Linked DNA regions of Homo sapiens. The protein of the gene in region 1 purifies or fractionates together with the protein of each later gene. This does not show direct contact. Each region holds a gene or a part of one and is shown in the gene's direction. Other genes may lie near its edges. The genes, in order: ETV5, STK40 and DET1.

Region 1 (3,749 bases):
ATCCTGTACCTCTGATACCATTAATCAAGCCCGGCATTGGTGTGTAAAGCTTGCACCTTGAGTAGGTTTTAAGTACTTCACAGAAGGGTAATAATTTTGCACAGGCCCTAAAAAAAAGGCAGTCTAAAATTGTTTCATTTCTTTTTTTCCCCCCTCTTAGTTAAAATCTCCCAAATTCATATTACAGGAGGATCCCTTTTCCCCCAGAAATTACTCAATGCTGAAACCTCTCAAAGTGGTATTAGAGACGCTGAAAGCACCATGGACGGGTTTTATGATCAGCAAGTCCCTTTTATGGTCCCAGGGGTAAGTTTATGTGGCTTTTGGTTTGTTTTGTCCTCCCTCTCCAATATGAGTCTTCCCCCTGTGGACCTCTTTACTACACTTGAGCCTTCACTTTCTGTTGGCCTCTTTCAGAAATCTCGATCTGAGGAATGCAGAGGGCGGCCTGTGATTGACAGAAAGAGGAAGTTTTTGGACACAGATCTGGCTCACGATTCTGAAGGTAGTAAAGCTTTCCCTGATTATGTTGTGGCTTCCCTGCTCCCAGTGACAGTAGCGTGTAGATTCTTCCCTGTCTTCTCCCTAGCGAAAGAAATATCCTCATTCTGGGGTCTTCTTTTTCAATTTCAGAGCTATTTCAGGATCTCAGTCAACTTCAAGAGGCTTGGTTAGCTGAAGGCAAGTTTCATGGATGTCCTATTTTCCATATAAAACATTTTACTGTGCTTTTTAATAAAACTTAAAGGTCTAAAATAAAAATCTATTTTCCAGCACAAGTTCCTGATGATGAACAGTTTGTCCCAGATTTTCAGTCTGATAACCGTAAGTACCTTTCTGGTGATGGCACATTTGTTCTGAAATTGTTTGGTCTTAGATCATCCATGTCTAGAATATGCTTTTTTCAGCTATGGCCAGATTTAGACAGTAGTATGCATTTAGTTTCTTCTAATAATTCAGAATTAACCCTGAAAACTTTTATTTCATAATAAAATTATTTCTAAAGTATTTCTACTGTATTGCAGGTAAGATTTACTGAACATAATTTTATCCTAAATTTCTTTTTACCTTAAGAATATTGTAAAGCTGACTGGGCACAGTGGCTCACACCTATAATCCCAGGGCTTTGGGAGGCTGAGGCAGGTGGATCACTTGAGGTCAGGCATTCAAGACCAGCCTGGCCAATATGGTGAAACCCCGTCTCTACTAAAAATACAAAAATTAGCCAGGTGTGGTGGTGGGCGCCTGTAATCCAAGCTACTCAGGAGGCTGAGGCAGGAGAATCACTTAAATCCAGAAGGCGGAGGTTGCAGTGAGCTGAGATCGCATCACTGCACTCCAGCCTGGGCAACAGAGCAAGACTCCATCTCAAAAAAAAAAAAAAAAAGAATATTGCAAAGCTTTAAGCTCAAAATTATAAATTAACTGACAAAATATATTTGGTGTTAGGCCAAGCATCTATTAATCACACATTGTTTTATGGCTTTTTTGGGGTTTGTTTTATAAATTAAGTCCTTGATGTGAATCATGAACCTGATATTTCTCTTTTTCTTAAAGGTGCAGAAAATAGTTAATGGAAAACTCCAGTTAACTTTGGCTTCATCCAACATGTTGTCAATTTTGTCTCTACCCCTAAGCTGACAAGGGGTGGTCACAGAGTGGCCTGATTTACTCTTACTTTTCGTGTAGTTGCTGTGGCTTTTCTCTTCAGAGAAGAGAAACTTTTTCTTAAAATGGCCACTAAGTGCTCATTACTAGAGAGAAAATGCAGTGGGAAGCTCAAAAGATGGCTTTCAACACTGGCAGGGGCATGGTTACTTTGCACTGATCTTTTGGGGCTGTCCTCAACAGGTTTGGGAGCTTTTATGGTCTAGGCAGAGTTATGAAGGACAAAGCCGGCTGATGAAATTTGAGCAGCACAGGGCTGCTCTAGAGAGCATTAGTCACTGGCGAATGAGCAGGTTTAAGAGAGGCCTGGAGAAAATGCTGCCTCTCTTGAGAGTTGCATCATAGAGAAATTCATGTCTCTTAGTCATAGTTTATAATAGCAAGCACCTGAGCCATGCAAGGACTCAATTTCTCATTTTGGACCAACAGATTCTTCCCAGCTTTGTTTTATCTCTGGGTAGGTGGGTGTATGTGTGTAAAAATGCCACTGGAGAGAGAGTATCTTAGGTCTCTCTCTAAGTAAAAAGTTGGGTATTCCAAATCTTTTAAATGTAAGAGCAGAGGTAACAGCTAAACATTCCTTAATGATAGGCCTCATGTCCAAGGCACAATGCCATGAAACTGTAAAAGGGAATAAACTGGAACACACACATGCATGGTTACCTTAGCTTTGTCACAGCTTGCTGTGGATGTGTTCTATGGGAGAGTAAATGCATGTTAATTATTGCCCTTTGATTGCTTTCGAGTGATTGGGAAGCTTGCCACTGAAAGACTAAATAAAGATAATCCAAGTGTGTGTGTGTGTGTGTGTGTGTGTGTGTGTGTGTGTGTGTGTGTGTGTTTGCAAGATGAAAGACAGGGTTTGTAATCCAACTTTGTTCTGTGTTGACAATTTGGCCCAGCCTTTCCAGTTCTTGCTCAGAGCAGCATAAACTGCAGTCTGTTTGGGAGGTGGCTTTCTTGGCAGAGGTTCTTTGAAATGCTTTTATGACACTTTTGTTTGTTTCTCTGTAACCCAAAAGAGTTAAAAGGGAGATGAGATGGCTGCATTCAAATTGATTGCATGTGCTGAAGCAAGGGTATGTTCTTTGTCAGCAAGCAGGATTTATATTTGGAGAGATATTTATCTGTGGGAATAGGCTAAAGTGAAGAAATCAATAAATGTGTTTTGGCTCTTTAGAAATAATTTCTGCTCAGCAAATAGAATGTGCTAAGTTCTTTAATTAAAATTCCATACCTCAAGTGGAGGTAATTTGGGAGATGTTTCTGCTTACCAAGTATGATGTTTTTTTTACTTTGCTTACTTTTTGTTTTAACTGCCTAAGGTTGAGCCTTTCTGTCTTTTAAGGATAAAAGAGATGGTTGACTAGCCTAGAAAAGGTCTTCTAATGATTCTTTCCCTCTGACTTTATTTCTTGAGGTAGAGCTTCAAGAAGGGATAGATTCAAATAGAATAACTTGCTTAAGAAGCAAGGCAAGAACACAAATGTGGGTGGTGCATCTTTGAGCCATTCATTCTTGCAAAAGCAAGTTTGTTTGCCTGCAGTTCAGACCAACAGCCAGAAGCATGAGGAGGAGCTGGCAGAGCCCACAGCCGGCTGCATGCACTTACTTTTCCATGAGCGCTTTCCACAGCCTCGAGTTCAGGACCAGCTTCACTCCAGTCATTTTCTGGAAGAGCTCGTGATTTTTTTCAGGGGAGGGAAGAAAACTCATTCAAATTTAATGAAACCTTATGAGTTGGTTTGACTCACTTAACCAATGAATATAAGCCAAACTTAGATTTGCCAGGGGAAAGCAAACCTTTTTTTTTTTTTTTTTTTTTGGAGAGAGAGTTTTGCTCGTCACCCAGGCCAGAGTGCAATGGCGCAATCTCGGCCCACTTACTGGGATGTCCACGTCCCAGGTTCGAGCAATTCTCCTGCCTAAGCCTCCCGAGTAGCTGGGATTACAGGCACCTGCCACCATGCCTGGCTAATTTTTGTATTTTTAGTAGAGACGGGGCTTCACCATGTTTGCCAGGCTGGTCTTGAACTCCTGACCTCAGGTGATCCGCCCACCTTAGCCTCCCAGAGTGCTGG
Region 2 (3,749 bases), on another chromosome or scaffold:
AAGAGGCCTGGTGTCCACCCCCATGTAGTGATGACAGTGAGATACCCACCCAAGCAACTACAGCACATCTGAGCTTTTTGTAGGATTAGAGGTGTCAGGCACGCTGGGACAAAGGATAGGAGAGCCTGAGCCTCTTCCCGGTGTGCCGCTTCTGTGGGCCGAGCCTGTGGTACTTAGTCACAAAGCCATGACAGCTCCTCCCCGACCCCCAGATCCATCCTGTCCATGGAATGTCTAATGGAGGGGAAAAAATGAGTGACTTTCGCCACCAGCCACTGCCCTGAGGGGAGAAAGAGCTAAAGAAGCTGCCACAGATGGGGAGACACTGACTAGGTGCACATTCATTCCCCATCCAGACGCGCAGGTCACGCGAACTTAGAACTGTCCTGATCTGCCTGTGCTTGGAGCCTAAAGAGACACATCATAGAATTTTTCCTGCCTTCTCGAACACCTGGAGAGCCCCCATCTTACAGGGTGGGCCCTGACCCCACCTCTCACATTGACAATGTAAACCATACGCCTGTTGTTTTACAGAAAAATATCGTGCACAGAGACCTGAAGCTGGGGAACATGGTGCTCAACAAGAGGTAAGATCCCTGTCTCTACATCCATACAGTTACCCCGGGGCTGGGGCAGGCTACACATTGCAACTCTCCAGTGCCCTGAAGTGTCCTCATGAGGATTCCGACTCAAAACAACCCACTTCCTCCAGGAATCCCAGGGCTCGGGATGGGATGAACATGGGAATTGGGGGCTTGCTGAGACTGGGAGTTTTGAGCCACAGAAAGGGAGCTCTGGGAAGAACTTTAGATCTCCCTTGTCCATTTATTTGTCACACCTGGCTCCTAGTGGGTACTCATAAAATTACTATAAAAATGGACTAAATGGTCAGGTGCGGTGGCTCCCGCCTGTAATCCCAGCACTTTGGGAGGCTGAGGCGGGAGGATCACTTGAGCCCAGGAGTTTGAGACCAGCCTGGGCAACATAATGAAGACCCCATCTCTACAAAAATATATATATTTTTTGAATGGACAAATGGGGTGAAGGAACGAGCAAAATGATGCCTTGCCATAGGTCAATTTCCTCAGGAAACAGACTCTGAGGTTTACGTGCAGAAGGTTTACTGTGAAGTGCTCTCAGGGTGAGGGGGTGGAATTAGGCAGAGGGAGAAGCTGAACCGCAGTGAAGTCCCAGCAGGGCCTCAGCCTGAAAAACTCGAGAGTGGGATGGCCTGCAGATGGCCCGCGCTTGGCCTTTGTGCCCCCACAGCAATCAGTCACTGAATGTCTGCTGTCCTTAGGGAGGGGCATTCTCTTAGGCAAGGCAGCTTCTTTTGGCTAAGAGGGCCTCCTGGAGAGGGATGCAGCTGTGAGTGGTTACCTGTAAAATGCCACCAGCTCTCTCAGCAGCAAGGAGAGCATGCCTTAGACTTGGAGGGGATCTGGCGGCCCACCCTTGTTGGGGTGAACCAGCAGCAGAGGGACACCAAGCACGGCCCTGGTTTCAGGTTGTCATCCCGCCTCGACAGAGGGTCCTGGGCCTCTTTGGAGTGATCTGGGACAGTGCTACCACTGTCTCACCATGTTAGAGGGACCACCAACCATGTAGGAACCCAGGACCAGCAGGAAGTGGGCCCACTCTGTGGGCTACCATGATCCTTGAAATGCAGGGCTGAGAAGGGCACATCTCCCCCACTCCGCCCCCACCCATTATTTCTGAGCTCCCCTCTGTCACCTCTCAACTCGGCATTGAGCAGGTTGAAGGGCTTACAAAGGCAGCCTGAATCTCACAGCAGAAGTGTTGTGGTGGGTGATTCATTCCATGATGTGGCCAGCCCAGCCCAGGAAGGGCCCGAGGCCCACTGTCCTCTAAAGAGGCCAAAGCCACAGTGGTCAGAGGAAAAGAAGCTGCCTGGAGGTTGGCCTCCGGGGAGGGGGCATTGCCTTGTGCCCCATCTCAACTGATGGGGAATTACTGCTGGGGGTTCCAGATCCCATAGCTCCAGCCTGAGAGGCCATCGGGACGATGCTGTGCACCTCAGCTGCTAAGCATTCTCCATCCTTCGACTAGCACCACCTGGTGCTGGGGCTGCAGACAGAAACGCTCAGTGGTTCCCACTACCCTCTGGAGCCCACCATCTGATGGTGTACTGACCAGAAGATGGTATCATGTGTGGAGGACTGGCGTGCAGAGGGCAAGGGACATGTGGAGGGACAGTGGCTGCCACCTGAGTCAATTCGTGAAGGATGAGTTGGGATTTGCCAGGCTGAGAAAGTGAAGGGATGAGAACCTTGCCCTGCTATGCTCTGCAGGGGGAAGGGAGGGAAACAGGAAATTCCAGAGCTGCTTGAACCCTGGACTGGCTGAGTGAGTGAGTTGAGGAGGACGGAAGCAGCACTGACATGGGGGTCAGACCTGGCTCACTTCCCAGTGCCACTTCTTCGTTATCTTGGAGACCGTGAGAGTGTGGTCCTCTGGGTACTTACTGATTGAATTCATATATTGAGGTACCAAGCACTTCTCTGAGCTTCCATTTCCTCATCTGTGAAAGTGAAGGTCATCCTGGCTTCCTGGGAAGATTGGCCTGAGATGCAAATCAGTGGGTGTGAGGCTGCGTAATATGATGGGGTTTGGCGCATCACGGGCACACCCCAGTGCTAATGTAGCCAGGACTGGAGAGCCTGTCGCTGAGAGACAGGAGAACAGGACCCATGGGCTCACATCTCTGGAGATGAGGCCTGCTGCATGTTGAGTGGCCAACGAGGACACCCCTGGTGAGGGCCCAGCGGTCCCCCAGCCATAGCTCTGCATCATGAGAGGAGGTGGTGGGGAGCCCCGAGCAAACCAGCCCTGGGCTGTGGAGAGCCAGTTGTCATAAAGTTGGGAAATTGGGTCCTGCCCCTTCCCCTGGCCCTCTCTGGGGCCTTGGGCCAGTCCCATCCTGCTGTGGACTACAGGCTTACTGTTCACAAAGAGAGAGCATATTTTTTGGGCACCTAAATCCATCTGGCTGCAGAGCCCATGTGCCCTCCAGCTGGACTAGAGAGCTCCCAGACCTTCCACAGCAGCCATTCATTGGCTGTAAATGAACATCCCAGGGTTGTCATGGGAACTTGCCGGGCTCATGCCTGCTAACCACACCAGCACTCCTGGCCCTTTGTGTCACTGGGGGATTTGCTTCCAACTCTCACTTCCCCAGGGCCCCTTGGTCCTGGGAGTGTAGTCGAGGGGTCGCACCTCCCTGCATACGCCGGCGTGGCTGTAGCAGCTCTGCTGTGAGTGTGAGTGCGTGCTCCTCAGGGTGCAGAATGCCAATGCCTCACTCATACCCAGTGTCCTGGTTGTACTTCCTGAATCTGATAAATCCCCCTTTTTGTGTCTCAGGGCAGACAGAGGTTCTGGCTGCCTTTTACTTGAGTCATGGGCGCTCCAGAGTGGCAGGGTAGTGTGGTGCAGAGAGACTCACTGCTCCGTGTGTGTCCTCTGGCACACCCTCCGCTCTGGGGCCCCACTCTCACCTCGTTCAGTTGACCTGAAGGAGCTCCAGCCCACTCCAGCCCCTTCCCACCCATCATGCCAGGCTATAACTCCACTGGAGCAGTAGGCGGACCAGCTGGAGGCCTTCTCAGCAGAGCAGAGAGCTCTCAAGGAGCAGACAGGGGGAGGTGTTGGCAAGGCAGCTGCAACAACAAGTTCACCCCGCTTTGGATTTTAAAAGGATCGAAATTCGAAATCCTCTTCTGGGGTTA
Region 3 (3,749 bases), on another chromosome or scaffold:
TGACTCACTGCAACCTCTGCCTCCCGGGTTCAAGCAGTTCTCCTGCCTCAGCCTCCTGTGTAGCTGGAGTCCCCGCCACCATGCCCAGCTAATTTTTGTATTTTTAGTAGAGATGGAGTTTCACTATGTTGGCCAGGCTGGTCTCGAACTCCTGACCTTGTGACCTCCCTGCCTCAGCCTCCCAAAGTGCTGGTATTACAGGCGTGAGCCACTGCACCCGGCCAGTTTGTTCCTCTTTTACTTTGTTTAGTGTATTCTTATTCTTCAAGGCTCATACCAATTGTTGCTCCATTAATTATTTTAACATATTTATGAGCGCTTAACTGTCCCTTCTCCTAGGTGCTGGGAATACAGCAAGGAATTAGACCAGTTCCCTGCTCTCTGGTATGGTGGGACAGATACTAAAAAGGTAAACAACTTAATTTCAGGAAGAGATAAAGACCATTAATAATATAGGGTGTATCAGTAAATTCATGTGGGCAGACGTAAGGTGCCTGGGGAAGATTTCTGAGGAGGTACTATTTTAGCTGAGACTTGAATGATGAAACAGAGGCAGATCTTTCAGCACTTAAATAATGTTGTTCCACTTCTTTCTAACTTCCATGGTTTCTGATGAGAAATCTACAGACATTTGAATTGTTGCACCTCTATAGGTGATACGTGGTTTCTATCTGGTTACTTTAGAGGTTTTTACTGTATATCTTTTAGTTTTTTCCATTTTAGCTATGATGTGCCTGGGCATGGATTTCTTTGGATTTATCATATTTGAGGGTCTCTGAACTTCCTGAATTTGGGGGGTCTCTGAACCTTTTGAATTGGAGTTTATATCTTTAGCCAAATTTGGGAAATTTCCTTCCTCCTTCCCTTGCTTCCTTCCTCTCTCCCTTCCTTTCTTCTTTCCTTCCTTTCTTTCATCTTTCTTTTTTTCCCCTTCCTTCCTTTCTTTCTTTCTTTTTTTCTTTCTTTTGACAGAGTCTCACTGCATTGCCCAGGCTGGAGTGCAGTGGCATGATCTCAGCTCACTTCAGCCTCTGCTTCCCAGGCTCAAGTGATCCTCCCACCTCAGCCTCCTGAGTAGCTGTGACTACAAGTGCACACCACTGTGCCCGGCTACTTTTTGTATTTTTAGTAGAGATGGGGTTTTGCCATGATGCCCAGGCTGGTCTTGAACTCCTGGGCTCAAGCAATTTGCCCATCTCAGCCTCCCAAAGTTCTGGGATTATGGATGTGTGCCACCACCACCAACTATTACAGCCATTATTTCTTAATTTTTTTTTTTTTTCTTAGCATTCTACTCCTCAAGATCAGGGTGTTACAACTTTTGATATTTTCCCTAGGGCCCTGAGGCTTTACTGACTTTTTTTCAGTCTTTTTATTTTTTCCCTCTTTTGTTCACATTGGGTAATGTATACTAATCTATCTTCAGGGTGACTGACTCATTTCTCTGATGACTTCATTCTGCCCTTGAGCCCATCAGTGAGTTTTTTATTCTTTTTCAGAATTGTTTTTAAATTTTTAAAAGATATTTTACTAGAGTCTATGGAAGCTAGAAGAGTTTTGTATGCTGGTTATTGCTTTTTCAGCTCTAAACTTCTTATCTGGATCTTTAAGAAATATCTTCTGTTTCTTAGCTGAGACTTTGTTTTTCCATCATTTCAAGAGTGTTTGTGATTACTTATTGGAACATTTTTATAATAGGTACTTCAAAATCTGTCTCAGAGAATTCCAACTTTTGTAGCATCTCAACATTGGTGTCTGTCAATTGTCTTTTCTAGATTGAGTTTTTTCCTAGTACTTCATATGCTGAATGATTTTGGATTGTTTCCTAGACATTTTGAATATTATAAGATGATAGGGCTTGTTTAAATCCTAAGAGGATGTTGGTGATTTTTGGCTTGGTAGGCAATCTACCTAATTAGCTTCAGGGAATTTGCAATTTGTAACTCTCTTTAGGCTATGGTTCTAATGGCAGATGAATTTTCAGAAAGTCTTTGCAGTGCTATTTGGATCTGTCCCATGTATGTGACATTCAGTGGCCAGTCTGCAATCTGGGTGTTGATTATTTCAGTTCTCAAAGCCTTTAGTATGATTTGGACCAGATCCACACGTGTGCAGCTTGGGAGTTCATGAACAACTTCATGATGTTACTTTTCTGAGCTCCTCCCCATCTGATATCTCCCCAGTACCTTCTGGTTCCACTGGGGTCTCCCTTTTGATCCTCTGATGACAAAATTGGGGCTTTAATTATCCTTCCTTGCAACACACTTGCTCTTCAAGCAGCAGGAGAACCAGGGGAGACAATGTTAACCTCACTGCCCATTCAGTGGTACTTTATTGTTAGCCAATTGGTTTTTCTCATATGCCTGTCTTATGCATTCTGTCTAGGTTTTATAGCTGCATTTTTAGTGGGAGAGAGAAGGTGGTGTTTGATTATTCCATCTTATCTGGCAACAGCTTTATAACTTAAGTTTTTCACTAAATGCCGTTGACTTTTATGGCCTGTGATTTAACTTTGATTTGAATCAAGGTATAATAAAACAATTAGAAGACTTTGCCATATAATAGATGCCCCATAAATATTAAAACATATTTTTATTGTGATTTTAAAATAGCCTAACATTTACCGTCTTAACTGATTGTAAGTGTACAGTTCAGTAGTATTAAGTATATTCACATTGTGAAATTGATCTCGAGAAGTTTTTCATCTTGAAAATCTGAAAAGTCTAACCCATTCAACAGCACCTTCTCTTTCCCCTCCTGCTAGTCCCTGGTGACCACCATTCTTCTTTGTTTCTGTGAATTTGATTCCTTTTTCTTTTTTTAATGATAAGTATTTTACATTAATTTTTTTTTTTTTTTTTTTTTTTTAGAGATTGGGTCTTGCTCTGTTGCCCAAGCTAGACTCAAACTCCTGGGCTCAAGTGGTCCACCTCAGCCTCCCAAGTAGCTGGGATTACAGGTGTGTGCTATGGCACCTGGCTGTTAAATTTGATTACGTTTGATACTTCATTTAAGTGGAATCATACAGTATTTGTCTGTTTGTGATTGGCTTATTTGACTTCACATAATGTCCTCAAGTTTCAGTGATGTAGCATATGTCAGAATTTTCTTCCTTTTGAAGGCCGAGTAATATTCCTTTGTGTGTATATACCATATTTTGTTTATCCACTCATCCATCAGTGAACTTTTGGGTTGCTTCCATCTCTTGACTACTATGAATAGCGCTGATATGAACATGGGTGTGCAAATATCTCTTAGAAATCCTGCTTTCAGTTATTTTGGATTTATACCCAGAAGTAGAATTGTTGGATCTTATGGTAGTTCTAATTTTCTTCAAGGAACCTTCATACTGTTTTCCTTAGTAGCTGTACTATTTTTCAGTTCCACCAACAATGCACAAGGGTTCAACTTCCTCTATGTCCTCAATGAAACTTGTCATTTTCTTTTTTTAAAAAAAGCAGTCGTTCTAATGGGTGTGAGGTGATATCCCATTGTAGTTTTGATTTACATTTCTCTGATGATTAGTGATGTTGAGCATCTATCTTTTCATATGCTTTGTGGCCATTTGTATAGGAGAAATGTCTGTTCCAGTACTTTGACCATTTTAAAATTGGGTATATGATTTTTTGTTATTGAGTTATAGGAGTTCTTTATATGTTCTAGATATTAACCCTTTATCCAATATATGATTTGCAAATATTTTCTTCCATTCTGTAGAAAGCCCTTTCACTCGGTTGATTGTGTCCTTT

What was found.
Region 2: the proteins of ETV5 (region 1) and STK40 purify together in Homo sapiens (affinity purification with mass spectrometry; 3 studies listed by BioGRID and IntAct, with this or other methods). This does not show direct contact.
Region 3: the proteins of ETV5 (region 1) and DET1 purify together in Homo sapiens (affinity purification with mass spectrometry; 3 studies listed by BioGRID and IntAct, with this or other methods). This does not show direct contact.

Annotation. Positions count from the first base shown.
Region 1 is NC_000003.12:186,102,381-186,106,129, reverse strand, and holds part of ETV5 (ETS translocation variant 5), read left to right. Parts: intron 1-187; 5' UTR 188-261; coding exon 262-306; intron 307-417; coding exon 418-505; intron 506-633; coding exon 634-681; intron 682-774; coding exon 775-825; intron 826-3,749. UniProt on the Homo sapiens protein: Binds to DNA sequences containing the consensus nucleotide core sequence 5'-GGAA.-3'.
Region 2 is NC_000001.11:36,351,202-36,354,950, reverse strand, and holds part of STK40 (serine/threonine-protein kinase 40), read left to right. Parts: intron 1-534; coding exon 535-587; intron 588-3,749. UniProt on the Homo sapiens protein: May be a negative regulator of NF-kappa-B and p53-mediated gene transcription.
Region 3 is NC_000015.10:88,532,972-88,536,720, reverse strand, and holds part of DET1 (DET1 homolog), read left to right. Parts: intron 1-339; exon of another isoform or gene 340-386; coding exon of another isoform or gene 387-409; intron 410-3,749. UniProt on the Homo sapiens protein: Component of the E3 ubiquitin ligase DCX DET1-COP1 complex, which is required for ubiquitination and subsequent degradation of target proteins. The complex is involved in JUN ubiquitination and degradation.